Regions from separate parts of the Homo sapiens genome. Here regions 1, 2, 3, 4 and 5 are each reported to be linked to region 6. The links are microRNA targets in miRTarBase. Many come from high-throughput screens and were not tested one by one. Region 6 holds a microRNA gene; each other region holds the end of a gene's coding sequence.

The links. Region 6 holds the annotated microRNA hsa-miR-6878-5p (AGGGAGAAAGCUAGAAGCUGAAG, at 1,349-1,371, opposite strand). A microRNA usually pairs through its seed, bases 2 to 8, with sites in the 3' UTR of a target mRNA and lowers its output. Matches are read on the target gene's strand: a 7mer-m8 pairs with bases 2 to 8, a 7mer-A1 pairs with bases 2 to 7 and ends in A, and an 8mer does both.
Region 1: the mRNA of ADGRL1 is a reported target of hsa-miR-6878-5p. Seed matches in the 3' UTR shown: 7mer-A1 at 1,107-1,113 and 7mer-m8 at 2,809-2,815.
Region 2: miRTarBase lists SETD5 as a target of hsa-miR-6878-5p. Seed matches in the 3' UTR shown: 7mer-m8 at 4,159-4,165, 7mer-A1 at 4,067-4,073, 7mer-m8 at 3,224-3,230 and 7mer-m8 at 2,599-2,605.
Region 3: miRTarBase lists MYL12A as a target of hsa-miR-6878-5p. Seed matches in the 3' UTR shown: 7mer-m8 at 3,926-3,932.
Region 4: the mRNA of SYT7 is a reported target of hsa-miR-6878-5p. Seed matches in the 3' UTR shown: 7mer-m8 at 1,212-1,218 and 7mer-A1 at 3,968-3,974.
Region 5: the mRNA of SGSM2 is a reported target of hsa-miR-6878-5p. The part of its 3' UTR that is shown has no 7-base or 8-base seed match.

What each region holds. Positions count from the first base shown.
Region 1 is chr19:14,146,661-14,151,660 of GRCh38, reverse strand. ADGRL1 (adhesion G protein-coupled receptor L1) reads left to right here. Exons shown (of 23, transcript NM_014921.5): 23 at 46-3,918. The coding sequence ends at 788. All of the region lies in intron 1 of ADGRL1-AS1 (ADGRL1 antisense RNA 1), which reads right to left. Among named protein-coding and RNA genes, the nearest start is that of ADGRL1-AS1, 12 kb to the right of the region's middle. RefSeq lists an enhancer at 3,040-3,783.
Region 2 is chr3:9,475,401-9,480,472 of GRCh38, reverse strand. It overlaps SETD5 (SET domain containing 5), which reads right to left. Exons shown (of 23, transcript NM_001080517.3): 23 at 2,319-4,990. The coding sequence ends at 4,382. Among named protein-coding and RNA genes, the nearest start is that of LHFPL4, 76 kb to the left of the region's middle.
Region 3 is chr18:3,254,982-3,260,065 of GRCh38, reverse strand. MYL12A (myosin light chain 12A) reads right to left here. Exons shown (of 4, transcript NM_006471.4): 4 at 3,830-4,320. The coding sequence ends at 4,148. It overlaps MYL12-AS1 (MYL12A and MYL12B antisense RNA 1), which reads left to right. Exons shown (of 4, transcript NR_130145.1): 3 at 3,744-3,824; 4 at 4,228-4,630. Among named protein-coding and RNA genes, the nearest start is that of MYL12B, 4.6 kb to the left of the region's middle.
Region 4 is chr11:61,513,970-61,519,053 of GRCh38, reverse strand. SYT7 (synaptotagmin 7) reads left to right here. Exons shown (of 13, transcript NM_001365809.2): 13 at 323-5,084. The coding sequence ends at 427. Among named protein-coding and RNA genes, the nearest start is that of LRRC10B, 7.8 kb to the right of the region's middle.
Region 5 is chr17:2,378,859-2,383,940 of GRCh38, forward strand. It overlaps SGSM2 (small G protein signaling modulator 2), which reads left to right. Exons shown (of 24, transcript NM_014853.3): 23 at 178-345; 24 at 574-2,196. The coding sequence ends at 662. Among named protein-coding and RNA genes, the nearest start is that of MNT, 20 kb to the right of the region's middle. RefSeq lists an enhancer at 3,963-4,172.
Region 6 is chr1:150,488,637-150,493,720 of GRCh38, reverse strand. MIR6878 (microRNA 6878) reads right to left here and starts at 1,376; the gene lies at 1,311-1,376. TARS2 (threonyl-tRNA synthetase 2, mitochondrial) reads right to left here. Exons shown (of 18, transcript NM_025150.5): 3 at 4,634-4,757; 4 at 2,996-3,120; 5 at 2,210-2,327; 6 at 2,059-2,123; 7 at 1,232-1,310.

The DNA of each region.
Region 1 (5,000 bases), not on the chromosome of region 6:
TCCAGGGCCCCTCTTCAACCTGACCAGCCCCTTTCTGCCCTGCAGAGCACCCCTTGGGAGGCCGGGAAGCCTGTGGCATGGACACCCTGCCCCTGAACGGCAACTTCAATAACAGTTACTCCTTGCGAAGTGGGGATTTCCCTCCCGGGGATGGGGGCCCTGAGCCGCCCCGAGGCCGGAACCTAGCCGATGCGGCGGCCTTTGAGAAGATGATCATCTCAGAGCTGGTGCACAACAACCTGCGGGGGAGCAGCAGCGCGGCCAAGGGCCCTCCACCGCCTGAGCCCCCTGTGCCACCTGTGCCAGGGGGCGGGGGCGAGGAAGAGGCGGGCGGGCCCGGGGGTGCTGACCGGGCCGAGATTGAACTTCTCTATAAGGCCCTGGAGGAGCCTCTGCTGCTGCCCCGGGCCCAGTCGGTGCTGTACCAGAGCGATCTGGACGAGTCGGAGAGCTGCACGGCCGAGGACGGCGCCACCAGCCGGCCCCTCTCCTCCCCTCCTGGCCGGGACTCCCTCTATGCCAGCGGGGCCAACCTGCGGGACTCACCCTCCTACCCGGACAGCAGCCCTGAGGGGCCCAGTGAGGCCCTGCCCCCACCCCCTCCCGCACCCCCCGGCCCCCCCGAAATCTACTACACCTCGCGCCCGCCAGCCCTGGTGGCCCGGAATCCCCTGCAGGGCTACTACCAGGTGCGGCGTCCTAGCCACGAGGGCTACCTGGCAGCCCCAGGCCTTGAGGGGCCAGGGCCCGATGGGGACGGGCAGATGCAGCTGGTCACCAGTCTCTGAGGGCACCTCATGGACCAGGGGCTGGTGGCCCAGGCCAGGGAGGGAACCCTGGGCAGGGCTCTGGTGGGAGAGGGAGACAGATGGAGGCAGTGGCTGGTGGGCCACTCTCTCCAGGTGCCCCTCAGCCATGGGCCCTACAGTCCCCTCAGGGGACTCTAACCTGGGGGCCTGAGGTGCCAGGGTTCACAGACAGGGTTTCCCACCAGCCACACGCACCAGCTCTATTTGGGGGAAGTGTAGTGAGGAGGAGCCCAGAGGACCCCAGGGGAGTGAGGAGGGAGAACTTGGAAGGGTGCAGCCCACTTCCAGACTCTCCCCTCTCCCACCCTTCTACCCTGTGAAGGGAAATGAGGGCTTTAGTTTCCTGGGCAGGGAGGGGCAGCTTCTGAGGTTGCCAAAGGCCCCCACTGGATGGAACCTGTTAGCTGCTCCTCTCCGCAGCCAGAAATGCTGCCGGCTGCACCCAGAGGGAGCAGTGAGGCAGGACAGATGGACAGGTTCCTCCTGCGCTGTAATTCCCTGCTCCCTGGAGACTGGGAAAAGGCCGCAGGGCAGGGGGACTGGGCGGTGGTGGCTGGTGGTTTAAAGGTTGAACTTTCTCTGAAGCTCCTTTCCCCTTGCTCTTGGTCCCTGCCCCGCAAGCAAACCTGCCCCCTCTGCCTCCCAGTGCACCCAATGACCCCCTCCCTTGGGGCGACTCCTGATGAAGCACAACTCCCCGCAGGGCCCCCAGCCCACAGGGGTGGCCATATTTGGGCAGTTCCCAGTCCTGTGGGCTCGGCTATCTGGGGAGCAGATTTTGGGTCTGGATCTCCCTGGGGAGTGGGTCCTGGGCTTGGATCTTTCCCTAGGGGGCCCTCTTACTCCTTCCTCTCTCCTCCTCCTTCCCCATTGCTGTAAATATTTCAACGAAATGGAAAAGAAAAAAAAAAGACAAAAAAAAAAAAAAAGAAAAGAAAAAAAATCTCATCACTTGAAGCCACCGGGAGCCTGCGGCCCGGGCCAGCCCGGGCTTTCTCCGGAGCAGAGCAGCGCTGCTGGCCTGGCAGCCAGGACTTCTCCGTGTACGTGCATCCCCAGTCCCCGCCGGGGCGGGCGGGCCGCCAGAGCAGCTTTTTACAATCCAGAGACAGAAAACAAAATCTAGATGCAACAGCGAAACAAAGAACCCATTTCCTTCCTGGCACCCTCCTTTCCTGCTCCGCCTGCCCGGCATCATCAGCCCTTCTGGGGCGTGTACCTCTCACTGCCTGCCCCAGGACCAGAGGCCTGTCTCCCCCTTCCCTCCCCACCGGCCCGGGGGAGACCTCTTCACACCCAAAGATGCTTTGTCAAGATGGCTGCGCTGTCCCTTTGAGTTCCTGCTTCTTGTATATTGCTCTGGGGACTCTCGCCGGGGAAGATGGGGCTGATTTCCCACCTAGAGAGGTTGATGGCAGAAGGAAAATGGGGAGGCACTGGGGTTGTGGAGGGCATGGGTATGGCTGAGGAGGGTGCTGGGAACGGCAAGGCGGTCTGGGGGATGGGGAGGGGCAAAGGTGAGAGATCACCTTCCCTATCCTCCACCTTCCCGCAGGGAAGACGAAGCCAGGTGCCAGGGCTGGGGTCGGGACACCCATGTTCTGGGCGGCTTGACCCCAAATCCCAGACCCCGGAAGCTCCAGGCTCGGGATGTGTCCTGAGCACCTGTCCCGGCCCCCTCCTCTCCAGCCTGTCAGGCCAGCCTCCCCAGCCCCCTTCCCTCAACTCTAGGGGCAGCATAGCCCCAGGCCACCCTAGCCCAGCCCCTGCATTGCCGTTTCCCCAGAGGTGGCCCCTCCACCTCTGCTCTGACCTCTCCCCATCTCTCTGCCCCTCCTTTTCTCACAAGTGCCATGAGTTTTCAAACATCTTCGGGTCTCAGCCTGCTGCTGCCATGAACTTTGTTGGGTTAAGGGGGAGGGGCTCTAGGAAGGAACTGGGGGGAAGGGGACAGGTAGGTGGCTGGAGGGACCCTTTTTGCTGCTAGAAAGCCCCTCCCTTCTCCCGGGGAGCTGGGGCTGGCTTGTCCCCATCAATTAGGGGAGAAGGGGTCAGACCAAAGATGGTGGTTTGTCCCGTGTAAGGGAACAGGTGTGGGGAAGAGGTGGGGTTGGGTTCCAACTCTGGCTTTTTCTGGTAGAAAGGCCTAACCCATTACACCAGAAGACCATGGGTGAAGTCTAGATGGGGAGGAGAAGTGAGGCCAGGGACAGTCTTGCCAGACGACTCTGAGGAGGGCAAGGGACAGTTCCATGGCCCTTCCCGGACTGCACTAGGCTGGGAGCTCTGTTGTGTGGAGGGGTGGTCAGAGGTCTGTGAAGAGCGGGCAGGAGGCATGAGCAGGCGAGGAGCTGGCCTGTCCCGGGAAGCAGCCCAGCCTGTGGCTGCCCCCGACACCAGGAGGAGGGCCAGGAGAGTTCCAGGGGGCTGAGGCACACAGAGAGGCCAACTTCCTCCCTGCCCAGCCTTCCTTGTATCTCTCCAGACTCGGACAATCAAAGGGAGAGAGGGTGTATCGGGTCCTGTTCCAGCCGGCATCGCCGGGTGGCTTCCAGGCCTCAGAGCTGTGTGGCAGGGCCCCCTGCTGGGGCTGGACATCACTGCAGTCCAGTGCAAAGCCGCCCCCAGAGCCCAGGTGTCCCCCCAACCTAACCAGACCTGGTGCCTTGACGCCCCCACCCCAGCTGGGACGGTACAGAGAAGGGTCTTGGTTTCCTCTCCTACTCCCTTCCTTAGGCTCCTGAACTCGTTTGCTCCTAAATCTTGTTAATTCTTTTTCTCTGGATTTTGGTTTCTTTTGGCTTTCCCTTGCCTTCCCCTTTCTCTGTCTCCAACACTCTTTCCCCATGTCTTTCTGGCTGTCTCTATGTTCCTCTTCTCTTATCCTCAACTTTCTGTCCATTCGGGCCTCCTCCCCACCTCCCACGCCCCAGCCCCTCCCTCCTTGGTCTCCTTTTCGATATGCCAAACCAATTTTGGGTCGAGTGCATTTAACGAGAACAAAACAAAAGGCTCATAACAACAAGAACGTTTCAGAAAAAAACAAAAAGTTTTAAAAAAATTGTTGAGTCAAAAAGTCAAACAATAAAGAAATTAAGATTTCTTGGAATGACAAGAGTGGTGTGACTTCTTGAGTGGGGGAGTAAGAAATGGGTGAATAGCTGGGCGCGGTGGCTCAGGCCTGTAATCCCAGCATTTTGGGAGGCCGAGGTGGGTGGATCACTTGAGGCCAGGAGTTTGAGACTAGCCTAGTCAACATGGTGAAACCCCATCTCTACTAAAAAGACAAAATTAGCTGGGCGTGGTGGCAAGCACCTGTGGTCCCAGCTACTTGGGAGGCTAAGGCAGGAGAATTGCTTGAACCCGGCTGGGAGGCAGAGGTTGCAGTAAGCCAAGATCGTACCACTGCACTCCAGCCTGGGCTATAGAGTGAAATTCTGTCTCAAAAAAGAAAGAAAGAAATGGTTGAGCAGATCTGCACAGGGGCGTCCCCATGGGCTCTGGTCTGCACTCGAGCATTCAGAACCCCTGGCAGAGGCTTGACAGTTATAGAATCATTCACGTTTATGAGACCTTGGTAAGTTCCTGGGCCTGGTGGAGCATTTCATGTGCAGTTTCTCTGAATCCTCACAAAATCCTCCCAGATGGAGACAGCGATTAGAGTTCCATTTTACAGATGGGGAAACTGAGGCTTACAGCCCTCAGATGCATGCCCAAGTCTCTCTGACCAGGCCACTGTTCCATGCTGTCTCACAGAAGCCCTTCTTGGCCCAGACGTCTGTCCCCAGGCTGTACTAGAGCAGAGCTCAGGAATTTTACACTGTGATGTCTCATTACAATTGCCATTCCTACACTCCCACACGCTACTGGCAGGGAGTGCTTTCAAACTTGACACACGGTGGAATTGCATCATGTGTATTTCACGTTGTCAGTTCACCAACGAACTGCCCATGCTCAGAGAGAGGCATAACTACTCAAACTACAAGGATCCTTTTCCGGGCCCCTCTGCCTTAAAAAGATACCTGTGTCTAGGACACCACCCACCTCCCCACAACAGCCACTCCTTCCCAGTCTTCATGGCTGGCTCCTTCTCATCTGACCTCCTAATGATGGGGAACCCAGGGGCTCAGTCCTTAGACCTTTTCTCTCACTCCCTGGAAGGTTTCACCCCATCTCATGGTTTGAAATGCC
Region 2 (5,072 bases), not on the chromosome of region 6:
CCTAGCACACAGTAGGTGTTCAGCCAATGGTCATGGAACAGAACCTTCCAATTATGGCAGAAATCAGTTAGTTTTATTCATTATCAGAAGCCCAGTGCTATAGCTGAAACACTGTACTAGGTCTCAATTTCTCATCTTTAACTTCTGGCATTTGGCTTGCTTTCTTCACAGAATTATGAGTCAAAATAAGACACTGTATATGGAAACACTTTCTAAAGATCATGCACACTATTCTCTTCCTAACCCAGGTAGAATCAGGTTGTGGTTGGTGGTAGGTTACCTAGGTATTCCTAGGGCATTTTGGAGGGATCTTCTAATAAAACAAGTGGTTTTGTTATGTTTCCACTTTCTATTTTCTTTTGAGACGGAGTCTCGCTCTGTCGCCCAGGCTGGAGTGTAGTGGCACGATCTCGGCTCACTGCAACCTCTGCCTCCTGGGTTCAAGCGATTCTCCTGCCCCAGCCTCCCAAGGAGCTGGGATTACAGGCACGCACCACCACGCCCGGCTAATTTTTGTATTTTTAGTAGAGACAGGGTTTCACCATGTTGTTCAGGCTGGTCTCAAACTCCTGATCTTGTGATCCGCCTGCCTTGGCCCCCCAAAGTGCTGGGATTACAGGCATGAGCCACCACGCCCAGCCTTCCATTTCTAAACTCCTTCAACTAATAAATAGCATCTTCATCTTTGAATCCCTTATGTGCTTTGCAAACTGCAGTCTACCTTAGTTACTCAGTAAACATTTGTCAAACAAATGTTAGAATACTGCCAATTCAATCCATTGGCAAGTTCTGCTGTGTACTTGCAAAACATATCCTGACTCCAATCACTTCTTATCCCCATCATTACCGTCTTAATAGAAGCCACCACTGCATTGTTGCTTGCCTGAACAACTGCTCTACCTTCCACACCAGTTTCTCAGCTCCTATTCATCTCTTCACCAACAGGATCAAAACAATCAGAGTAATTTTTAAAAATCAACCAAATATAAATTAGACAATGTCACTTCTCTCCTTAAAATCCTGCAATGACTCCTCCACTGTACTTACTGAATGCAGATTATTTAAATTATACCTACAAGGTTCTACATTAGAGACCAGCAAACTACAGCCTGCAAACCAAATCCAACTTGCCACTTGTTTCCTGTAAATAAAGTTTTATTGGAACATAGCCACATACTGTCTATGCCTGCTTTTGCACTGCAATGGAAGAGCTGAATAGTTGTTTTTTTTTTTTTTTTTTTTTTTTTTTTTGAGACAGAGTCTCGCTCCATCACCCAGGCTGGAGTGCAGTGGAGTGACCTTGGTTCACTATAACCTCCTCCTCCCAGGTTCAAGAGATTCTCCTGCCTCAGCCTCCTGAGTAGCTGGGATTACAGGTGCGCACCACCACACCTGGTTAATTTTTGTATTTTTAGTAGACAGGGTTTTGCCATGTTGGCCAGGCTGGTCTCGAACTTCTGACCTCAAGTGATCTGCTCTCTTGGGCCTCCCAAAGTGCTGGAATTACAGGCATGATTCGCACCCAGCCAAAGGGCTGAATAGTTATGACAGAGACCATACATGGCTTGCAAAGTCTAAATATTTACTATCTGGCCCTTTATAGAAAGAGTTTGCCGACTCCTGCTCTACATGATCTGTCCCCTATCTCCCTCTTACAGGATCTTCTATCCTCTTTCCCAGCCCCATCCATTTATTACATCTTAACCAAGCTTTTTCTACCACAGAGTCTGCAACGTTCAAGAATGAATTTCACTCACATCGTCCCAGGACTGCCTCCTTGTCACTGAAGTCTCAGTTTAAATGTCAACTCCTCAGAGACTTTTCTTGACCAACCAATCTAGAGTGGCTCCTTCAACTGTCTTAGTCACATATCTGCTATGAAACAATTAACATGGCAATGACTATTTAAAATTATATACTAGTTTAGTTCTCTCCTCCACTAGAATGTAAACTCCATGAAAGAAGAGACCTTACTTTGCCCACCCCCAATCAGCATTCTAATCACCATAAGCCCAGCACCAAAAACAATGTCCAGCATTGTTTTTGAATGAAAAAGACCAATAAATAGTTGCTGAATGAATGAGGCCAAGGTCAGGAACACCACTCAAGTTCAAGGCAGTTTTTAATGTTCACTTGCCCTGCTGCAGGTTTGCCTTCACACTGTCCTGACTGCAATCATAAAAAGCGAAGGAAGATCAGACAGTATTCCTGGCCCCATTATCATGGGCAAAACAACTCCACCAAGGGCACATTCTCCTCAGATAAAAATGGCATTAGGAAAACCAGGCAAGGCAGGGCCACAAAATTGGACAAAGAAGTTCTCAACTTTATGATTATTATGGTTAAGAATTTTATTATCAAAATTATTACATCTCTTGTGAAAGTTCAAATGTTACAGCAAGGTGTAAACACTCCACTTGAGAAAGAAGTGATACTTCTTCCCTTCCAAGAGTTCCCCCCACCCCCCCGCCCCTACCCCCCCAAGAGGTCTGGTCTTGACAGCACCCTGCCCACACAGAGTGGCTGGGGTCTCTGCACGTGCCAGGCAGGGTGAGGGCCGCCTGCCCGCTGGCCTCTCCCCTTGGTTAAATAGCCAAGGGGAGAATGCAAACCCCAGCCCAAATGGAGAGACATTTACATACGTTTTATATAATATACAAAGAAACCAGCATCCCAGGCAACATGATTTCCACTCCCAATGCTCTCCCAGACTGATGGGTTTGTGGGGGAAACAACAAAAAGAAAAGTACTCTGCTGAGGTCTCAGCATTTAAAAAAAAAAAAAAAAAAAAAATCTCCCCTCATTTGAGCAAACACCTGATTTCGATTTTGAAAAGTGAAATTTTGTAACAGTCACACACAAAGAGAGAAGACTGTGCATATGATAGTTGTAGGACAGGGTAGAAAAGAAGGGGATGCAAGAGGCTGGGGAAAAAAGGAAAACAAATTAGAGGGAAGGAAGGAGGGAAACTCACAGTATTATCTTGTCCAAAAGAAAAGAAGGTCCACTGCAGCACCAGGGATTACACCTGTCATATATTCACTACCCCTACCATGGTTATAACTGAATACAAAATTAGATAAATAAAAACACGCCAGATATTACAGTAAACAAGTGAAAGAAATAAGCTGGCAACCATATGGAATTTAAAAAGATTGTGTACCCCACCTGGGCTGGCTCCAGGGCTCCTCCAGGGGTGTACAACAGGCACAATGCACTGATGGGGAGAAGCCGGTCTGCTCTCATCTCTCATCCAGAACAGTGTTAGGGGTGTGGGTGGCTTGGTAACTCTTTCACTGGGCCCACTCTCACATAAGCATCCCCCAGAGAAATGTGGGGCAGGCCCACACACAATCACAGTCCTGTCGGTGCCACTCCACAAACCTATCTTCCCACTCTTACCCTGCAGTCACAAGTGCATGCTCCCCAATCATGGAGGCGGTCCTGCTCATGGGATCATCAACTCCTGATTAATTGGGAGTAGAAAAAATAAAATTCGAAGCATTCCCAAACCACTCGGTATCCTTCCTAATGAAATTTATTGCCAAAAGCTGGTAAGTAGCAATGCAATTGGCCTATATCATGTCTCATTCCTCCTTTTCTTGTCTACTTACTTCATGGGTTACTGAGCTGTGAAATAGCTTGGGAAGGGGGAGTAGGATGGTAACAGTTGGAGGCTCAGACAATCTACTCAAATAATCTGCTCCCGAATAATCAAGAGCTGACCATGAGCTTTTCTTCAAAGAGCCAGGCACCCTCCAGTTGGTGCAGGTTCCAAGCTTTACTATCCTTGCCTATTTCTTGGTGATCTTAAGACAAAGATAAACAGTATTCTTGGTGGACACACATTGGCCAGATACCTGCTTTTGGAATGGTTGTCTTAGGATGAACATTTACATACCTACCTTTTTTCTTAAGTGCATAAAACCCTAACAGTACTCAGATGGCTTGGGGCTTTGAGATTGGCTCTTTTAACTTTTTTTCCTTTGAAAACTTTTTTTTTTTTTTTTTTTAAATTTAAAAAGATGTCCTCACTGCACAAGTGACTACGGGCTACAGGCAAGGATGGGAGACGGAGGCTTCAACACAACTCATTGCACTTAGAACCGTTACTAACCGAAACACCATTTGCTTGTCAACAATGTACCCTTGACAGCAGGGAGAAACTTCTTTATAGTCTCTGCTTCAGACAAGATTTACAGCTTTCTCCAAGGCCAGAGGCCAATTGTGACCACAAGTCTTGTTTCTTGTCCACCAGACCCAATCCTCTGGCACCTTGTACCCCCCGTTCCTCAGCAATATGCTCGGCCTAGGTTCCAGAGGCAGCTGGAAGGAAGCAGCTATGGGCTCATTCAGTTCTGTTTGCCCAAATCCAGAAGCCCTAGGAAAGTCCCGTCTGAGTCTTGACTCCTGACCCTTGCAGTGGCTGGAGTCGGTACTGGTGCACACCCCCACTCCCACGGTGTGGGTAGTGCTGTGAATTGGAAACCGCAGATACCCTGGAGGCCTGGTAGACAGCTGACTGCCCAGCACTGGGCAGACTGATAGTCCGTAAGTCTGATGGCAATGACGACCTAGAGTTCTGAGGAAAGGAGGTGGAACTCAGAGTTCCTGTGCTGGACTGAGAAACTGAATCTGAGGTTGGCGAGTCTGAGGGTCCCTGCAGGGTAGGGCTAGCAGCACTAGAAGGGCAGCTCCTCCTTGGAAGATTGCTGCCAGTGCTGTTTCCAGAATGTGGCTGGCTGCTAAAATACCCTGGTGTCCCCGTAAATGGGGCCAACGAGTCTGTGGACACAGGGTGGGCGGGGCTGGAATAGGACGTGGAAGAGAGGGATGATTCTGAAGAACCGTGAGAGGGGGGGTTTCCAGGTCTCAGTGCAGTAGTTCGATAACTGTATCCTGGAGACTGTGTAGGATGTCCTCTGAAGGGGGAGGAACTCTGCTGAAGGAGGCTTTGTGATTCTGTCCGAGGACTATCACACTGCAGGAGCTAGACAAAGTTGGGAGGAAACGAATAAGGACGCGAACAAGTCCCTTAAATGGCTGGTGAACATTTATAATACCCTACATTC
Region 3 (5,084 bases), not on the chromosome of region 6:
AAGGTATATTGTTCTCTCTAGATGCAAAAGAAAAGCCTATAATAGGCTTTGTTTAATCATGAATAAAAATTTATTCACTAATAAAAATAGCTGGATAGCTAAATATCTATCATTGGGAAATTGTTAATTATAGCATGCCCACATCAAAGATAACTGAAGTTAAGAATGGTTGAAAAAGAAATATACTCAAAACAATGGTGGCTATGCCAAAACATGAGATATAATTTAAGTAGTAAACGAAAAAACAAGTTGTAAACTCATTACAACTCTAAAATGTGTGTGGATAAATACTGGAGAAAAGTCACATTTCCTGCTATTTGAGCAGACACAGAGAAATCTAGACTAAAAAGATATAGGGACTTGGAAGATGGAAGAGCAAGTGGAAATGACTCGAATAAGCAGCAATGGGAAAACTGGGCATTTCTTCAATGTGGGATTAGCTACTACAATCCCTTTATGGACAGAAAAAATAAACTGTACCCGTGAAGAGGACCTAATTCGACACACACAAGTCTGGCATATTGGACCTGCTCAGGAAATCGAAAGTGAACTATTTCAGAATCCACTAGTACCAAACTGACAGGCATTTGTATGCATAGTCTTATAAAATCTTCCTAACAACCTGTTAATGAAATTCTACCTTGAAATCCATCCACTTTTCTAAGGGCAATCCTACGTGGTCTAGGTTCTGTCACATCCTAGCTCTTAGACATGATCCATTTTGTTTCACTAATTGTTCCCCCCTAGTTTGTTGTCTTCTACTCTGCCTATAAACAGGCTTGAATTTGAAGATATGCCCTTTGCCCCTTCTCACTGGCCCACTCGTAAACAAAATAACTACTATTTGGAGACCTAATGTGTCCCAGACCATTTGTCTTTCATGCTTCTAATTTTCAGAAGAAACTTGGATGGTATTGGCCATTTTACAGATGAGGAAACTGGCAATTAAGAACACAAAGTCAAATAGGCAGGTGCAATTCACTTAAGTATGGCTCCAAATCCGTGCTGCTCTTAATCACACAAATGCTGCTTTATATATTATGTTCCTAATATGAACCAACAGTATTATTTCCGTTTTATAAATGAATAAATAGGCCAAGGAAGTTTAAATAACTGACTTAAGGTTATAGAGCCATGACGTAGCAACAAACGGGAATTAAGTGTAGGTCTGCCTGACCCCACACCTAGGCATTATTCACTATCCTGTGCTGCATTATGGATTCTGCACTCAGAACTCTAATAACTCTAGCAAACATGACTAACGACTTGTCACATCTGGGAGGGTCTCATTTAAACCTTCCCATACTCCACTTTTCTGTGTTGGACACTGCCAACCTCCTTACTCTTGAAATTAACTAGGTTTCCGTAAGACTGTTTTTGTGGCTCTATTTACCTCTCCAAACTCTGATCATTTTTTATCTGATCCTCAAGTCTAGGTGTTAAGCCTCTTGCTGTCCTTCCTCTTTTCACTTTGTAGCAAATGGTTTCCTTTCCTTCTCAATTTGCTGTTACTTGTCTCTTATGCTCAGGCCTTCCTCCTTTCTTTCCCAGGAGCATTCAATTCCTGCTCTCATCAAGTTATAGATTCTTTCATCAAGTAAAATTTGGGGCCTGGAATCAAAATGACCATATCATCATATGCAGGTGGATAAGGATGCCACCCCCATTAGGCTGGTTTTGTCCGATTTTTGTTTTCTTTTTCAAGACAGGGTCTCGCTGTCACCCCAGGCTGGAGTACAGTGGCACAGTCAGCTCACTCCAGCCTCAAACTCCTGGGCTCAAGCAATCCTTCCACCTTAGCTTCCAGAGTAGCTGGGACTATAGGCACCCACCACCATGTCCGGCTAATTTTTAATTTTTATGTAGAGATGGGGTTTTGCTTTGTTGCCCAGGCTGATGTCAATCTTCTGGCTTCAAGCAGTCTTCCTACTTCGACCTTCCAAAGTGCTGGGATTACAGATGTGCGCCAACGTGCCTAGCCAGATCTTTTGAAATGGTTTAAGTATGACTTTCATCATGGAAACTTTTGAGACTGATTTTTCAGTCAAACACACCATTGAAATGGATGCTTTTACCTTTCTGTTGGCAATCACTCTTGTTTAAGCAAAGAATGCTATTACTAAATTAGGAGAATTATTTCATTCAGGGTACATCATTGTTCTTAATGCAAGTTGGTTCATTAAGCACTTATCTGAAAGGGAAACAGGGGCCCTGCAAGAGATCCTTTTAGTAGTACCTTGTTTTTCATATAGTGCAAACAATGCTATCTGTTCTTCACTAGAGATGTAACAAAGCATATGATAATTTTTTCTCTTGACATGGAAATTCAATTCAAAAAACAAGATTTTAGCACCATGGCCATAGCCTGGAAAAAGTATTTTGGCTTAACCAGTGAATAAAATTCAGAAACAAAAGACAAAGAATGAAGGCAGGTTCTAAGATTCTAATGCTGAAGAGGTCAAGGACTAGCTTTGACTAGTCCTTCTATTCCTATAGCACTGGCCTTCCCACGTTACAGGATCTAGCTGATCTATCTTATTGGCTGCAAAGGCCTGCTGCCCAGAAGGCTTTTAGTAATTGTTTACTGAATGAGGTAATGGTTTTGTCCAAGGAGAGTCATGTTAATCGTAGCATAAAACTTAAAGTTATTATAGTAATTGTCAATTACTCATCTTCATAGGCTAATTGTCAAATCTTTTCAACCAAATTTTTCTCCATTTCAAATCTTTTAAAACTCATGCTCTTTGAGAGTCAGAGTTTTGGGCTGGGCATGGTTGCTCACACCTGTAATCCCAGCACTTTAGGAGGCAGAGGTGGGAAGATCACTTGAGTACAGGAGTTTTAGACCAGCCTAGGCAACATAATGAGACCTTGTCTCTACAACAAATTAAGAAATTAGCCAGGCATGGTGGTGCCTGCCTGTAGTCCCAACTACTCAGGTGGCTGTGGATCACTTGAGCCCAGGAGGTCAAGGCTGCAGTGAGCTGTGATCGTGCCATTGCACTCCAGCCTGGGTGATAGAGCGAGAGACCCTGTCTGGAAAAAAAAGAGAATCTTGAAGCCCTTTGAGAGTCAGATTTTTAAAGCTGAAAAAGAACGAAACTGTCTGCCACTCCCTGATTAACTGTGAAACAGTTCTGCATTTCTGCAAATAGTAGAAGTTATTTTTAGGACTGAAATAATGACCTCACTTTCCCAGGCATGCAGGTTCAGCTGTTTTGATTGTGGGAAGGTCAGGAATGTCCAAAACTCAAACATGGACTCATGGTGAATCTCTGCATAAACAAATATCTTTCAATACACATTGCTGTGTTAAAGAAAAACTACATATAATAAAAAAAATACTGCATTATATTTCCAGCACTTTAAAACATAACATAAAAATCTCTCTTTGGTAGCATTCCACAGAACCTTTAAGCCAAAATGGTTTTTAAAAATATGACAAATTGAAATTATACTCAGTAACCTGGTCTAATTTTAAATGACCAGAAATTACAAAAGTTTAAATAAAGTGGAAATGTTGGCAGGTATGTCAACTTAAGGACTTAAAGCTATGGAAACTATCATATATGCAAATTCTACAGGAAATTATTTTAAAAATTGGAAGACAAAGTGCAGAAAACCTGATTAGGGCAGTTAAAATTGGATATCCTTGGGAGGAGGAGGAGGAATGGATAGTAGAGGAGATAGGATTGTTAGGAAAACTGGAGGAAGAGAAAGCTAACAACCATATCATTTTCTAGGATTTCCCTCATCTACCTTTCTTTGGGAGATACGACTGAAACCAACAAAAGCCAAGTTTGGTAAATAAGAAGTTTAAACAAGTAAGTATTTTATCATAAAGTTTAATTATGATTCAGAAAAAATCGAGCGAATAACTTTCTCTGAAAAAATATATTGACTCTGTATAGACCACAGTTATTGGGGGAGAAGGGCTGGTAGGTTAAATTATCCTATTTTTTATTCTGAAAATGATATTAATAGAAAGTCCCGTTTCCAGTCTGATTATAAAGATACATATGCCCAAAATGGCTGAGAATAAATACAACAGGAAATGCAAAAGCTGTAAAGCTAAGGGCATGCAAGAGAAAATCTCAGAATACCCAAAGTGGCAACAAGGAACGTTTGGCTGGAATTTGAAGTTATTTCAGTCATCTTTGTCTTTGGCTCCATGTTTCAGGATGCGTGTGAACTCGATGTAATTGAAATTCCCCTTTTTATCAATAGGTGCTTCTCTGTACAGCTCATCCACTTCCTCATCTGTAAACCGATCCCCCATGGTTGTCAGCAGCTCTCTCAAGTAATCTTCCTGTATGGTGCCTGGAGAATAAAGAACAAGGGATCAGAATACATACTATTCTGAGGGTTAATTACAAAGAATATCTATACTTGACTAAGCATGTTCTGTATGTTACAAACTATAAACATGCAAATATATGAACTACAGGGTGTCCACCTACTTAAAACAGCCTCAGCAGAGAAGTGCCTAGAAAAATGCCTAGCTGCTTAGCAGCACTGCTCCGCTCTATCATTTGCTCTATCATTCTGCCTCCACATTCAGCTTCTGATCTCTTGATAAGAGAGACTAAACCTATGCCTAAACAAAGTAATAAAAAGTATGGTTAAAGAATCTAAGCCTTACGGTTCCTTCAAGTGGCATGAATGGTCACATCTTATTCTACAAACAAGTAACATTTACCTGCCAGGCTAAAATCAACACTACATCATACACATCAATAAAGTGGTACAGTGGAAAGAATACCGGAAGCTTGAGGCCCAGTTTTAAGAAGCTATTTTATTTCAGGCATTTCACTTCATCCCTGACTTTGGTTTTCTCAGATGTAAAATGAGATTTTTACTGTTTACAAATCCAATTATTGTAATAAATATGGCCAGTCCCAGCACATGCAAAAACATGGAATAAATATTTGAGCACTAACTATGTGGCAGGCACTGTGCTGGGCAGTGGGGATGTGCAGTGGTAAGCTGAAAGGTGTGTGCTCTTTACTTTGGGAATTTGATACCAGGGTTCTCATAAAACCTGCCTGCCTACAAGAATCTGATGTCACCCGATTTATTTTCTG
Region 4 (5,084 bases), not on the chromosome of region 6:
ACAGATAGGGCAGGGAAGGCCATGGAGACAAGCTGCCTCCAACCCCACCTTCCAGACCCCACTGCAAAATAGGTTGGCAGTCTAATTCCGAGAGGCCTGGCGTGCCCAGGCTTGGGGGTGTGGGGGTAGACAACCAGGAAAATAGATCAGGCTGACTGGGGGAGGGAGGAGAGCGCCTCTGTGGGGTAGGTTGTCACAGCATGTGGAGGCTGGGGGGCCACAGGCTAGGGTATCATGGTGGAGTTGGGGTGTCACCCCTGTGGGGGAAAGGGCCAGTGCCCTGGAGCCTGTGCCGATGCCATCGTCTCCCCTTTCTCCCCAGATCTACCTGTCCTGGAAGAGCGGGCCAGGGGAGGTGAAGCACTGGAAGGACATGATTGCCCGTCCCCGGCAGCCCGTGGCCCAGTGGCACCAGCTGAAGGCCTGAGTGGGGCCAAGGGAGGCCCAGGGGGCCGAGGGCCCAGGTCCCCATCATGCCCTCACCACTTTATGCACAACGCCCGGCCTGAGCCCCCTGCCATAGGGAGGGGAGGACCCTGAGGGCTCAGCCAGGGAGGGGTCCCAGGACTCAACTGGGCCCCGTTTCTAGGAAGTACCAGCCCCATCCCCCACAGTCCAGCTCCGGGGAAGGGGCTCTGGGAGGCATTTTCCTGCTTTGCCCCTTTTCTTCCTGACTTACTAATACTAAAGAAGTTGGGGGAGCTCGAGAGCCAGACGGCCAGACAGGCAGACCCCTCCAGAGGCCCGCCAGGTGGGCATGGTCCCCCATTTTCTTTAAGGCAGCACCTGGAGTGGAGAGAGGCCACTCCCTCTCCAGCCCCCGATGTGGACCCGGGGAGGGGAGGCTGAGGCGTTTGGCCCCGGCCTGGCCAGGAGAGGCCCATCCCCAGGGCAGTTTCAGGTGCCGGCTGGGCCCTGAATGTCGAGGATAGTATATAGCCCGCTCCTGGGTCCTGGAGCTGTGGCCCTTTGTACTCGTGTTGTGTCCATTGTGTGTGTGCGTGGGGACAGAGGCCTGGAAATGCGGAGGACTATACAGAGAAGGCAGGTTTTGTGAAGGCCAGGCAGGGTTGGAGGCCGGGGGTGTGAGAGGAGAGGCCCATAGGGCTGAGTGGGGTCGGGTGAGGCAGAGGTCAGAAACAGAAGAGCTGCAGTTGCTGGAGCTGGGCTGAGAACTGGGCTGCCTCCTGCCATCCCCCCGTCTCCTCCCCTTCTCCCCTTGGTGCCCCCCTCTGCTCAGAATCTGAAGTAGTTCCCTCCTCAGCAATTTCATCTCTTGAACACTGACTCACACCTTTTAGGCACCTACTGTGTGCATAGCATTCCACCAGGACTCATCTCCCTTCCTTCTCAGGGGGTCCCGAGCCCCGACTAGCTTTGCCCTAACTCCTTCATCAAAAGACCCCCCGCCAGCTTCCCACACCTCATACGCAGCCACATCTGCCCTATTCTCCATGCTTTCCAGCTTGCCTGCCCTTCCTCATCTCTCCCTGCCTGTGCAGACCTCCACCCTTCTTTCCTCCACCCCTCCATCCCCCAATGCTTGTAGACCTTCCATTCATTCCGTCTCATCGTGCGTGGTCTCTGATCGTCCATCACCTGACCTTCTCCAGGACTGTCTTCTCACCCTTCCCCACTCCCTGGTCCCCGGGAGCAGCTCCTTCTGCCCGACTCACTCACAGTGCAGGGAAAGGAGGCAGGGAAAAGACCAGGATTCTGTGAGTTCTGAGGTTGCCACACACAAAGAAGCTGTGGTTTCTCTGCCTCGGCCACTGATGAGACTAAAACTGGCTTCCCCTTGGAGACGGCAGATTTCAGGCTGATCCCTGCTTAAGCCCTCTCATCCCCACGCTGGTCCTGGTATTGATACAAGACCCAGCTGGTGACAAAGCCTCCAATCCTGGGGGTCCACGAGCCTGGGCCTGACATTCCCAGAACTACCGCCAGGTGGCGCCAGGCCCCCACAGTCTGTGGCCGTGGTCTTAGCCCCCAGTTCCACTCTGGATGGGCCTGTGACACCCCAAAGAGAAGAAGGGGACTCTGGATAGGGTCCCCACATCCAGGGCGTGGGGAGACCATTGGCATTTGGGAACCATTTTCCTTCGAACGGCTTCCCCTTGAGCTGAGCATTCTGCTTGCTGCAGTAGACGGGTCGCCTTTTGCCCATACCGAAATTTTCTGAAATTAAATCGCACACCCCCACCATTTCCTCTCCCTGGGATCTGGAGGAACATCATACATAGTAGGTGAATCGTTTTGTAGAGTGAAGAATGCTAATGTAAAGCAAATAGTCACCCACGTTCCTTGTAAATCCAAATGTTTCTATATTGTAGCTTTGCTTAAAATGGGGTCGGCCCCAACTGCATCCTCCTCTTTGGCGGGCTGGGGAGCGGCCCCCAGCCGGGACGGGAGGGCAGCGACCCCGAGGCCTCGTGGACGTGGGAGAGAGTGTGGTGGGAAGTCTTGAGCGGAGGAGGGGATCTGCCCTTCTCCACTCCTCTCTTGGATCCGCCTCGGTTTCCTGTCCCCCCACCACCCGCCTGCCCCGCGGAAGACCGCCCAGTGAGCCAGCCCCCACCTTCCAGGCGCCTTCGCCCTGGGGATCCAACCAACTTGTATCGAGTGGGCGGGGCAACGGCTCCCCATTTTTCCCGAGCCCCGCCCACAGAGCTCTTAGCCAATCCTATGCAGAGAGCATCTCCTGGCAGGGGTCTCTTCCCAACCAGACCCCACCCAGGCACATTAGCGACCAGGCTTGGGCTTCCCCAGCGCCCCACCACCACCACGTGCAGGTGGAGCTCTGGGATGCTATGTTGGGGCGGCAAGCGGTGGGCCGAGGGCCGGGTAGGCTAGCACGGGAGGTAAGGGTGGTATGGGATGGGGCGGGGGCGGTCTAGGGCAATAGGAGAGCAGAGAATGGGGGAACTTGAGGGTGGGGGGAGGGCACCGGAGCCTTGCCACCATCCCAGGACTTTGGGCAAGTCACCCGCACTCCCTGGGCCTCGGTTTCCCCATCTGTAAAATGATGGTAATAATACTTCACCTACCTCATAGGGGAGGTTGTGAGGCCACCATCACCTGACCTGGGGGTCAAGGCAGGAGGACTCCGAAGGTGCTACCCGTGAGCAAAGTGTAATTACCGAATCCTGACTGCAAGGCCCACCTGCCCCTCCCCCACAGAGCCTCCAGAGCTAGCTGAGGCCAACGCAGGCCCATCCGTCTCTTCACTCTGTCGCAGGCCCTTTCATGGGCTTCGTCTGCCATCTTTGTGGGTGCCCTAGACTTAGTCCTTATCTTGTCCTGGTTTCCTTTCTTGTGACCATCTCCCCATGAAAGTGCTGTACAAATTCCACCCGCCCCAGGACCCCCGCACCTGCCCTCTGGCACCAGATGCCAGGGAAGGGACAGAGGAAAACAGCCACAAACAAGCCAGGGGGGCTCCCCGGAGCCCCAGGGGTGGGGATTGGTGGCCACTGTTTGTATGTTCTTGAGTGCAAGTGTTTTATAAAAAATAAAACAAAAACCCACCATCACAAAAAAAAAAATTTTGCAGCGAAGAGAAATGAAGAAAAACTGAAGAAAAAAAAAAAACAGGAAAAAAAGAACCATACAAAATTTTTCCACCACACATACCCTCTAAGCCAGCAAGATTTCCTCTTTGCAAAATCATATTTTTGTGGGAATGGGCCCTGCTTTTTGTGGCAAGGCCTGTTCTGATTAATAAAGGATCGTGAAAAAGTAGGGCCTTGGCTGTTTCCTCCGTGGGTCCCAGCCCTCCCTCACCTCCCTGGGGGCAGAGGCAGTGGGGTGAAGGGGATGGGGGCCCCGGGGCTGAGCCTCCCCTCAGTGTGTCACCTTTGGGATTTGACTTCACTGGTGACCAGGCCCTTCCCGAGTGTCCAGCCATCCTCAGATCTCTATAGAATATGATCCCACTGGCTTCCCAGAAAGCAGAGAGGCAGCTACATCTCCCAGATCAGGCCTGACACAAGGCTTTTTGGGAGTAGAGTCCTCTCTAGGCCTCAGGGGTGCCCTCCAGGGTCACCCAGCCTGACGTCCCCTCCCTCAGTTCCCAGAGGACACTTGCCACCCTCCAAGGCAGCTCAGACAAACCAAAGGGGGACGCTCCAGCTTTCCCACCACCATCCATGGGGCCACTGTAGTTTCAGGCCAGCGCCTCCTTCCTGGTCCCTGAGGTGGGAAAAGGAAAGACAATGAGCTCTGTGTCTGTTGGCTGGACCTGCGGCTTCTCTCAGCCCTCTTCTAGTTTCATTCTTTAGGATTAGAAAAGTCTCTTCCACTCAATAGAACAGGTTCCAGCCTGAGGTGTGGGAAGCTGGGTTGTAATCCCTTCTGCAGCCTCTGTGGCCCTGGGCAAGCTCTTTCCTTCCACCTGTTTCTTCTGGCCACAACAAAGCAATAACCATCCCCATCCCCTGCCCTTTCTTCCCCACCCAGCCCAGGGGAAGCTGAGCCCCCGCAGCTCTCAGGGTACTTCAGAAGGAAGGTGCTACATCTGGTTCAGACACAGGCACAAAAGGAACGAGCACATCCCCATTGTCATGTGTCCACCTGCTGGCCCCTGCCCCCACCAGGAGTGAAGCGGGCCATCCCATCCGCCCTCTGCTCCCAGCACTTGGGGCCAGCAGCTGCCTCCCGGAGCTGCACTAAGTACCCCATCCAAAGCTGTCTGTCCCTCATTTCCCACAACCTGGTTTAGATATCACTTCTGATCTCTGTTCCAGAGATCAGAGGAAGCCCCGGGGTCAGGTAAGTAGCCTCAGGGGCTCCCTTGGCCAGAGCTTCTGTTCAGGCGCTCTCCATGAAAGCAGCCCTGGAAAACTGAGCCTGAAGTCAGAGACAGCTCAGGCCCAGCACAGGGGGCAGTCCCTTGCCACTGGCTCGGGCCCTTCCCTGGACTTTTTGCCTTCCTCCATTTTTGCTTCTCTGGGTCTGTCTTCGTCCATGCCTGCTCTGAGATGCTCCCCCACCCCTCCCTGTACCTGGGACCACCGCCCTCTGGTGTTTTCTTTCTCCTGTGAGTCCCCCCCTGGATACTGCTGCTTTCTGGAAGGCTGTCCTGG
Region 5 (5,082 bases), not on the chromosome of region 6:
CCCTCACCTGGCTCCATTTAGAGGCCTGTGAGCAGCCAGTCCGGCCAGCATCAGCCCCAGCCCCAGCCTCAGCCTCAGCCTCAGCCCCAGCCTCAATCCCAGCCTCAGCCTCAATCCCAGCCTCAGCCCCAGATATGCGGCTAGGACGGGTGAGCAGCAGCCGCTTACTCTCCGCAGAACTGCTGTATGAGGATGTGTTTGCTGTGTGGGAGGTGATCTGGGCAGCCAGGCACATCTCATCGGAGCACTTTGTCCTGTTCATCGCCCTCGCCCTGGTGGAGGCCTACCGAGAGATCATCCGTGACAACAACATGGACTTCACTGACATCATCAAGTTTTTCAATGGTACGAGCTGGTCCAGCCATCCAGGCTGCCCTGAGCAGAGGTGTGGAGGCCCCCACCTCTGCCCCGCACACAGCTGGAGGGTTCTCAGGAATCCTGGGGGCCCTTCCCCAAAGGCCGGGATGTCAAGAATCTAGCAGAGCAGATGGAAACAGAGCAGGGTAGTCAGCCACCTCCTAGCCTGCTGCCCTTTCTCTGGGCCTCTCTACAGCTCTTCACGTTTCCCCCCAGAACGTGCTGAGCATCACGATGCCCAGGAGATCCTGCGGATTGCCCGGGACCTCGTCCACAAGGTGCAGATGCTCATAGAGAACAAGTGAGCTGGGGCCAGGAGGCAGCAGCCGTGCAGAGCCTGGGCTCCGGCAGGGAGAGGTGCAGGGGAGTCACCGCCCAGACCTCCCCAGCCACCAACCGACCCCACCTCTGTTCCTAACAAAGCGGTTGTGAGCCTGGATCCGACTCCCGGCAGTGCTGACCCTGCAGGGCAAGTCAGGGGCCAGGATGCCCTCGGATCAGGGCCGGGATGGGAGGGGTCAGCCTCAGGGAGCAGCTGCCTTGGGGGACACACCTACTCTGCTCCCCTCTCACACATCTGGGAGTAGCCCCACTGCCACCTGCAGCCGCAGCCTGGACTGCTGCCCACGAGTGAACCTGGGGCCCCACAGGATTAACAGGGGCTATAGCGGCCTGGGCCCTACTCAGCTGGGGTGGCAGAGGGCGAGAGGCTCTGTGCTGTGTCCCTTCTGAGGGTCCCTTTGCAGTCCCAGTATATTGTGCGTGCACCAGCCCCAGCTGGAGCAACCAAAACTGCTTCTGGTTTAGGCACACGTCACGGGTGCGGGAGACCCGGGCACGGGAGACCCGGGCCGCCTTCAGGCCGCTCCCCCGAGATTCTGGGGCAGTCGGAAGATGTGGGCCCTGGGTGGGAGCAGCCCACTTCAGCAGCACTGCCACTGCCTTTGGCCACCTGAGGTGACCCCCAGGCCTCCCCGGCCTTGTACAGTGTACCTCTGTGTATCTGTACAGCCTCGCTCCTGCCACCCCACCCTTGCGTTCTGCATTAGGTACTTCCCTGAAAACCACGTGTAAGAAGTGATGCTTTTGCCAGTGGATGATCTGGAATGCGACCGGAGCACTTGCTCTGAGGAATCCCAGGGTGACTCTGTCGGGGAAGAATCCGGTCACAGCCTCCCCTCAGAGACAGGCCTCAGTTCGAGGGCAGCCCATTATCTGTCGCAGACATCTGCCATGTCCCTGAGACTGCGGGAGGCAGGGGATGCATGGGTGTCCCCATCTGTCCCTGGTGAGAAGCAAGGCTAGCTCTGCCTTCCACATGCTTCTCAGGATGCCAAGAGGCCTAGGAACCCAGAAACCCCCTTGGAGGAGCTGTGTATGCGGGGGTGCCAGGAAGGGCATAGCTCCTGCCCCCAGGCCTAGGCATGCTGCTTGCTCGGCCATCCCCACTTCCTCCTCTACCCCAACACATGCAGGCTAGGCCTTGCCCTGGAACATGGAGGCCCTGCCCGGGGCTGGGGCCTAGTCCAGCAGCCACCAAAGTCTGGCAGACTTTCTGCATTTGAGAAACATGACAAAGGGCCCCGCAGCCCTTCTGCACCCAGCACAGCCTGCCCAGCCCAGCCCTGCCCCCGGGCACTGCACAGCCTGTCTGGGGGCCAGACCACCCCATTGTCCATCCTTGTTGTCCGTGAGTCCTTGGCCTCCACCAAGCACGTGTGGCCATTGTGTGCCTGCCTTAGTGACTCCGTGGTTTTGTGAGGAGCAGAGTGTGTATGATTTTTGCCTCAGAAACTATACTCTTCTGTGTAACAGACCAATAAACAACATTTGTCAACACTGGAGCCTCTGGGACTGGACACTGAGAGACCACGTGCCTTCTTTAAGCTCCACAGTCGGCCAGCCCCAAAAGGCGAGGACGGCAAAAAACTAAAGTTTCCAAGAGAGGTACTCCAGCCGCCAGTCTGGAGGGTGTGGGCTGGTCAGGAAGTCAGGGTGATTTGATAGCCAAACCTCAAGTACTCAGCGCCCTTGAGGGGACCTCACCCCAGAGTCATGGCCCCATCTCACGATGACCAGTGGCCCCTCTAGCCTGTGGATGAGAGAAGGTCCCTGTCCCATCCCTACCCCCTGCCTGCCCTACTGACCAGGCTGCAATGAGAAGCTGGAGCTTGACTATGCCACTGCAGCTGATGGCAACGGAGCTGCCCCTGTGGGTGTGGCTCTCACCCCGAGCACTGTCTGAGAGGCCGGAGGGGAGTGTCAGGAGGAGTCAGACCCTGCTGAGCTATAGACAGGCCCAGCTGTAACGGGTCTGCACCTCTCTTCCTGCCCTTCCCCAACCCGAGTGCTACTGGTCCCATCGTCGATGGCTCCAGGGAGAAGACACCAGTCACACAACATGTCTTCTACCCTAGAGGACACTGGCTTCCTGGACATTAGGGCCTGTTTTCCACTCACTCAAAGCTGAAGACCCCAGCCCATGGTCCTAGCAGGCTGAACCCAGCTTTATTATACAGAGAGAGAGACAGACAGATAGACAGACACAGAGTCTTGCTATCTCTCCCAGAATGGAGTGCAATGGTATGATCATGGCTCACTGCAGCCTTGAACTCCTAGGCTCAAGCGATCCTCCCAACTCAGCCTCCCAAGTAGCCAGGGATGCAGGCCCCCATCATGGCAGTTTTTCTATCTTTTTGGTAGAGGCAGAGGCTCACTGTTGCTCAGGCTAGTCTTGAACTCTGGCCTCAAGCAGTCCACCCACTTGGCCTCCCGAAGTGCTGGGATTACAGGCTTGAGCCACTGCATCTGGCCCTGAACCCAGCTTTTAGGAAAGAGTGCAAACTAGTGGCCAGAGCTACCCAAAGAAACCAGTTGGTGCAGAGAGAGCTCTGGGGCCAGGGAACTTGATGAGCCCTTCAGGGGAACACCCCCGACCCGCCAGCCGACTCTGTTGCCTGGAGGAGTCAGAATTCCTTTGCTGTGACCACCTAAAGGAAATTTCACCTAGCCTGGGAGTAACCCTTCACACACTTCCGTCCTGCCCTACTCCCCCTGACTACTGGACTGGGATCCTGGGACCAGAGGGGATCCCACAGCTTTTCAAAACGATGGGACAGCTGGGGCGGGAAGAGCAAGCAGCACAGTGGGCTCTCCAAACACCATCTCAAGGAACCTTTGCAATCTGGAAAGTCAGGTCTTCCTCTTACAGAGCAGGAGCTGGTAAATGGAAGCACCTGGATTCATACTTTATCCTGACCACAGGCCCCTTTCTTATAAGCTCCAGCTGAGCCATGGGTGAGTGAGAACTGTGGGTGAGGGGGAGCTTTGAGTACAGCTTCTGCCTAAAGATTTAGTGACAGCCCTCAGATGACAGCCAAGTTATCACTGCCTGGGGAGGGTCTTCATCTGTGTTCCCAGTGGGCACAGGGCCTGGCACTGAGCATGCACCCAGGAAGGGTTAACCCTCACCCTATCCCTTCCCTAAAGCGTCGCTTAGTGAGCTAATGGAAGTGACCCAGCTCTTCCAGGAGCTACCAGCAGAGGGAGCCCGCGTCTCACAAGTAAAAAGGGCAGGCTCAGTAGGGAGGGCTGGATTCCGAACTTTCATTTTAATTAAAAAAATTTTTTTTGAGACAGAGTCTCGCTCTGTCTCCCAGGCTGGAGTGCAGTGGCGCAATCTCGGCTCACTGCAGCCTCCACCCCCCGGGTTCAAGTGATTCTCCTGCCTCAGCCTCCTGAGTAGCTGGGATCATAGGCATGCACCACCATGCCCGGCTCATTTTTGTATTTTTAGTAGAGAAGGGTTTTTGCCATGTTGGCCAGGCTGGTCTCGAACTCCAGACCTCAGGTGATCTGCCCACCTAAGCCTCCCGAAGTGCTGGGATTACAGGCGTGTGCCACCGTGCCCGGCCTGAACTTTTTGAAGTCAACTCTTCTCTTTCAGAAAACAGGACCCAAGACAGCACTCCCTTCCTCAAGGATAACCCCTACCCACCCCACCTCAGGAAGAGACGCAGAGTCAGTCTCCCCTGTGGGGACTGGGAGTCAGTCAGGTACTGTCAGGGTGGAAATGAGAAGCTGGGCCCCCTTGCCCAGCCTGGTCTCCAGCAAGGCCTAGCTAGTGGCTCCCTGACCTCACTTCCCACACCACCTCCTCCCATGACAGCCTGCCCAGGGAGAGAAGACACAGCCACAGGGACAAGGGGCTTCCAGCCCAGCTGAGAACACGGCTCTTTGCCCCTGACCTCCAGCCTCTTCTTCCCCTTGTTCCTTTCCCTTAGAGGACAGCTTTATGGACTCCCCGGCTGACCTGTTGTAACTGCACCCCCAGAGCAGCCCCTCAGGAAGCTCTCACCCTCTGTGCCCAATCCCTGGGGCAACTCCCCTGTACCTTTTTTATTGGATCCGAGTCTAGGACTGGCCCCAGGTGCCACAAGGGTGGCAGATGCTGGGTAAGAACTCTGTACCCAGTTCAGAGGTCTGACTGCAGCTCCAACGAAGTCTCCAGCTAGCCGTGTGGCCTCAACAAGTCACTGGGCCACCTCAATCCTGTTTCCTTATCTGCCAAAATGGGGCTAAGTCTGGCTTATTTACTTCACTTGGCTGTTGAAAGATGAAACAAGATAATGCTTGTAAAATGGTCTGAGGAAATACGAAGCTTTGCAAAAGTTTCAGACCGACCAGAACTGCCATTTTCAGAGCGGCGGAGGCACCGGGTCAGAG
Region 6 (5,084 bases):
AGTGCAATGGCACGATCTTGGATCGCCACAACCTCCACCTCCCAGGTTCAAGTGATTCTCCTGCCTCAGCCTCACAAGTAGCTGGGATTACAGGCATGTGCCACCACGCCCAGTTAATTTTGTATTTTTAGTAGAGACGGGGTTTCTCCATGTTGGTCAGGCCGGTCTTGAACTCCCGACCTCAGGTGGTCCACCCACCTCGGCTTCCCAAAGTGCTGGGATTATAGGCGTGAGCCACCATGCAGAACGGTATTTTCATAAAAAGCATGCCCTTTACTAAAGGTATTTTCCCTGTGCCTGTCAAATGGTGTTCATCTTCCTCCTGGACCACGCCCCCTCTCTCTACAACCCTTCCCTGTATGACCCATCCAGCTTGCTCACACCCTCCTGCTCCACCCCTCCACCCCCCTTAATACTGACATCATATTAGGGCATCTGAATTGGCTTCTGGGCCCTAGCAGGCTGTCCAGTGTGTGCCATCAAACGGGTTTTTAGAATGTGGGGACAAAGTTTCTTTCTCCTGTATTCCCCGCTCAGCTTATGAGAGTACAGGGCCAGGCTCAGTGGCTCATGCCTGTAATCCCAGCACTTTGGGAGGCTGAGAAGGGAAGATCACTTGAGATCACCCTGGCCAACATGGTGAAACCCTGTCTCTACTAAAAATACAAAAAGTAGCTGGGCATGGTGGTGCACACCTATTATCCCAGCTACTCGGGAGGCTGAAGCAGGAGAATTGCTTGAATCCAGGAGGCGAAGCTTGCAGTGAGCCAAGATCGCGCCACTGCACTCCAGCCTGGGCGACCGAGAGACTTGGTCTCAAAAAAAAAAAAGGGGGGTGCCGACAGAAAGTATCACCTTCCGATTCTCCTGCTCATCCCAGTGAAACCAGGAATTTTTTTTTTTTTTTTTTTGAGATGGACTCTCGCTCTGTTGCCCAGGCTGGAGTGCAGTAGTGCAGTCTCGGCTCACTACAACCTCCGCCTCCCAGGTTCAGGCAACTCTCCTGTCTCAGCCTCCCGAGCAGCTAGGACTACAGGTGTGTGCCACCACACCCAGCTAATTTTTGTATTTTTAGTAGAGACGGGGTTTCACCATATTGGCCAGGCTGGTCTCAAACTCCTGACTTTATGATCCATCTGCCTCAGCCTCCCAAAGTGCTGGGATTACAAGCGTGAGCCACCATGCCCGGCTCAAAATAGGAATCTTAACCTAACTCTGTCCCACAACTGACCGATAGCAGCTTCAGTCCTCCAATCTGTCCAGTATGCCGAAGGTGGGGGCCCTGGCAAAGGTCAACCAATGTGCCACACCTAGGAGAAAGAAGAGGCCAGTTAGTGATTTTCAGAATCTTCAGCTTCTAGCTTTCTCCCTCTCATGGTCTTTAGCTGACAGAAGAGGTGAAGAGAAAGGAACTGTCCTACTGAGAGAGGGCAATGGCAGATAAAAATCAATTCCCTGGCAGGGCGCGGTGGCTCATGTCTATAATCCCAGAACTTTGGGAGGCCAAGGTGGGTGGATCACGTGGTCAGGAGTTCGAGACCAGCCTGGACAATATGGTGAAACCCCGTCTCTACTAAAAATATAAAAATTAGCTAGGCATGGTGGTGCATGCCTGTAGTTCCAGCTACTCGGGAGGCTGAGGCAGAAGAATTGTTTGAACCCGGGAGGCAGAGATGCAGTGAGCCGAGATCGCGCCACTGCATTCCAGCCTGGGTGACAGAACAAGACTTCATCTCAAAAAAAAAAAAAAAAAAAAAAACTAGCCAGGCATGGTGGCACATGCCTGTAATCCCAGCCACTCTGGAGGCTAAGGCAGGAGAATCACTTGAACCCAGGAGGCGGAGGTTGCAGTGAGCCGAGATCGTGCTACCGCACTCCAGCCTGGGAGACAGACCAAGACTCCGTCTCAAAAAAAGAAAAAAAAAAAATCAATTCCCATTCCCATTTCTTTTTCTGGAGCAACACAAATTACCTTCTATCTTTCTTCCCTTATCGCATTTCTGGCCTTCTTCAATGCTTCCCCACCTCTCTGTTTGCCTTAATCTTGACAACTCTTACCCATATACTGTTGCTGTTGGACCTGTCACTTTCTCCTCAATCAAGTGAAGCTTAAAGGGGTTATCCTGGAAAAAGGTAGAAGGGAGATTGAAGAAAAGTGTTTATTCCCACAAAGATGTCCTGGAAGAGCCACCTCTTCCCTCCACCCCACCTTGAACAACTGGCGAAGCTGATCCCGTGAAGCCTCTAGCCTCCGGAAGGGTCGAGCAGCAGCTGTAAGTTCCTGGCAAATCCGCTCCAAAACAGGCAGCTCTGAGCCCCGGATTGTCCTGGAAAGAGGAGAATTGGTTGGGTTGCATCCTATGAGGTGCATCAATCACCTGGGTGACACACCTGTTGGCTAGCGGGTAAGGTCCTGTCCTTCAAGAGAAATCTAGAGTTATAGGCAAAGACAGACAAACTCAGAGAAAATATAAATAGGATATCAGGTAACAGATATTACAGCTGGAGAAAAAGCTCTATGCATGAAGTTAAAAGTTGAATGCAGGAAATCTGGATAGACAAAGTTAGAACAATAGTAATGAGGGCGATTAAGTAAAACTTGAATTTATGAAAGCTAACAAGTAACAAAGTAAGTTGTTTCTTCTTTTTCTTTTTGTTTTTTTTTTGAGAAAGTGTCTTGCTGTGTCACACAAGTTGGGTGCAGTGGTTAAGATCATGGCTCACCACAGCCTCAACCTCCCAGGCTCAAGTGATCCTTCCACCTCAGCCTCCCAAGTAGCTGGGACTACATGTGCACCAGCCAAGAAGGTAAATTTCAAGCAAAGTTAGAAGAGGGACATGGACTAGCACAGAAGGAGATACTAATGTCATAGTTGAGACCTAGAGAAACCCTTCTCCTCCAGCTTCCTCATCCAAATGGAGCATGCCCAAGGCCCCTGAAAAGAGCCTCAGAAACCATCCCAGAATCATTCTCCTCCTTCCTTTCATTACTCACCTCTCCTTTCCCAGGAAGAAATCATGGTAAAAGCCATATTCTGTACTTGGACCTCTGCAGAGAACAGCACCTAGGAATTGTTCAGCTGCTGCCCCCAGGACATGGGTGCTGGAGTGCCAGAACACCTGGGTTCACAAAAAAGGGGTTCACAAGTTCATAAACTTCTCCCTTAACCCCTAGATCTCTGAGCTCTTCCTCACAAAAGCTGGTAGGAAAGCCGGTATGGTTCTTCTAGGAATAACTACCACAAAATGGGGATCCTAGATTTTGGGGGTGACCACTAAAAAGTAACAAGCTTAAAAAAAAAGGCTGGGCACAGCAGCTCATGCCTGTAACCCCAACACTTCAGGAGGTCAAGGCAGGCGGATCATCTGAGGTCAGGAGTTCGAGGCCAGTCTGGCCAACATGGTGAAACCCTGTCTCTGCTAAAACATACAAAACTAGCCAGGCATGGTGGCGTGTGTCTGTAATCCCAGCTACTCAGGAGGCTGAGGCAGGAGAATCACTTGAACCCGGGAGGTGGAAGTTGCAGTGAACCAAGATCGCGCCACTGCACTCCAGCCTGGGTGACAGAGTGAGACTCCATCTCAAAAAAAAAAAAAAAAAAAAAAGACTGAATAGAAAAGAAAGAAGGCCAGTATTTTTTCTTCTTTCAGTGCATAGAAGCTCCAGCCCCACCCCTCAATCCTTGGTTCTTCCCAGTTCCAAAGCATAGAAGCTGGAGGCCAGTCAGTCTTCTGCTGCTCCTGTAAGCTTTTAGGGCTTCAGAATAATTTTTCTTTTTGAGACGGAGTCTCGCTCTGTCGCCCAGGCTAGAGTGCAATGACGCGATCTCAGCTCACTGCAACCTCCGCCTCCAGGGTTCAAGCAATTCTCCTGCCTCAGCCTCTCAATTAGCTGGGATGACAAGTGCTCACCACCACGCCCAGCTAATTTTTGTATTTTTAGTAGAGACGGGGTTTCTACTATGTTGGCCAGGCTGGTCTTGAACTCTTGACCTCAGATGATCCACCTGCCTCGGCCTCCCAAAGTGCTGGGATTACAGGCGTGAGCTACTGTGCCTGGCCAGAATAAGCTATCTTCTTAACACAGTGGTTACTTAGGTCTCTGTTTGGTCTTTTAGTCCTATTTTTTTCTGTCCCACGAATCTAGTGCGATATATTCCTCTTGGATTTGGTCACTATTTACACATAGATGGCAGGAGAACTCTATTTTTCTGGATCCTAATAGGCAAGGTCTGTGCTACCTGAGCTGACATGAAGAAGACAAGGTGGGGAGGTGACCAGGTTGTTTGCTCAGCTGTATAAGCCATGTTAGAATTGAATATACACTACAGATGACTTATAATGTACGTGCTCAAGAGTTGAGGGGGCTGAATTTACATATTTATCCTTTCGTTTTTTCAACATATCATCTCTCTCCCTCTCACTAGCACAAATGTTTGCTTAATAGATCGAAGCTAAGTTAAAAACTTTCACCATAAGTTTCCTAACCAGAAATAGTCAAGACAGTCTGTGGTAGGTCTCCCTCCCAACTGCAAATGGAGAAACTGCGGCAAAAGAATAAAATGTTAGAATTTCCTGCTTCAATATCTCTTGGTTTAGTAGTCACTGTATTCCTGATAAGAAAGAAACTTACTGCTTTCCCCTCTGGGGAATCGAATGTCAGAAATCTGAGGTCAGAATCTGTCTCCAAGGGCCGCTCCAGATCATAAGGTTCTCCATTCACTTGAGCAGCCACTGCAGTATCTGCCAGTGTTGAACTTCAGCAGTGGAAGGTGGGGATGAAGAAAAAGACAGGGTTACAAGGCACAAAAAGGAAAATATCACATGTTCTGATTCCTATATGAGAGTTTAAAAAGTTGATCTCACAGTGGTAGAGAATAGAGTGATAGTTACCAGAGGCTGGAAAGGATGGGGGAGGGGAGATGAAGAGGTTGGCTAATGGGTACAAAAATAGAGTTAGACAGAAGGAATATGCTCTAATGTTCCATAGCAGAGTTGGGTGAATACAGTTAATAATAATTTATTGTATATTTCAAAATAGCTAGAAGATTTGAAATAGTCCCAACACAAAGAAATGATAAATG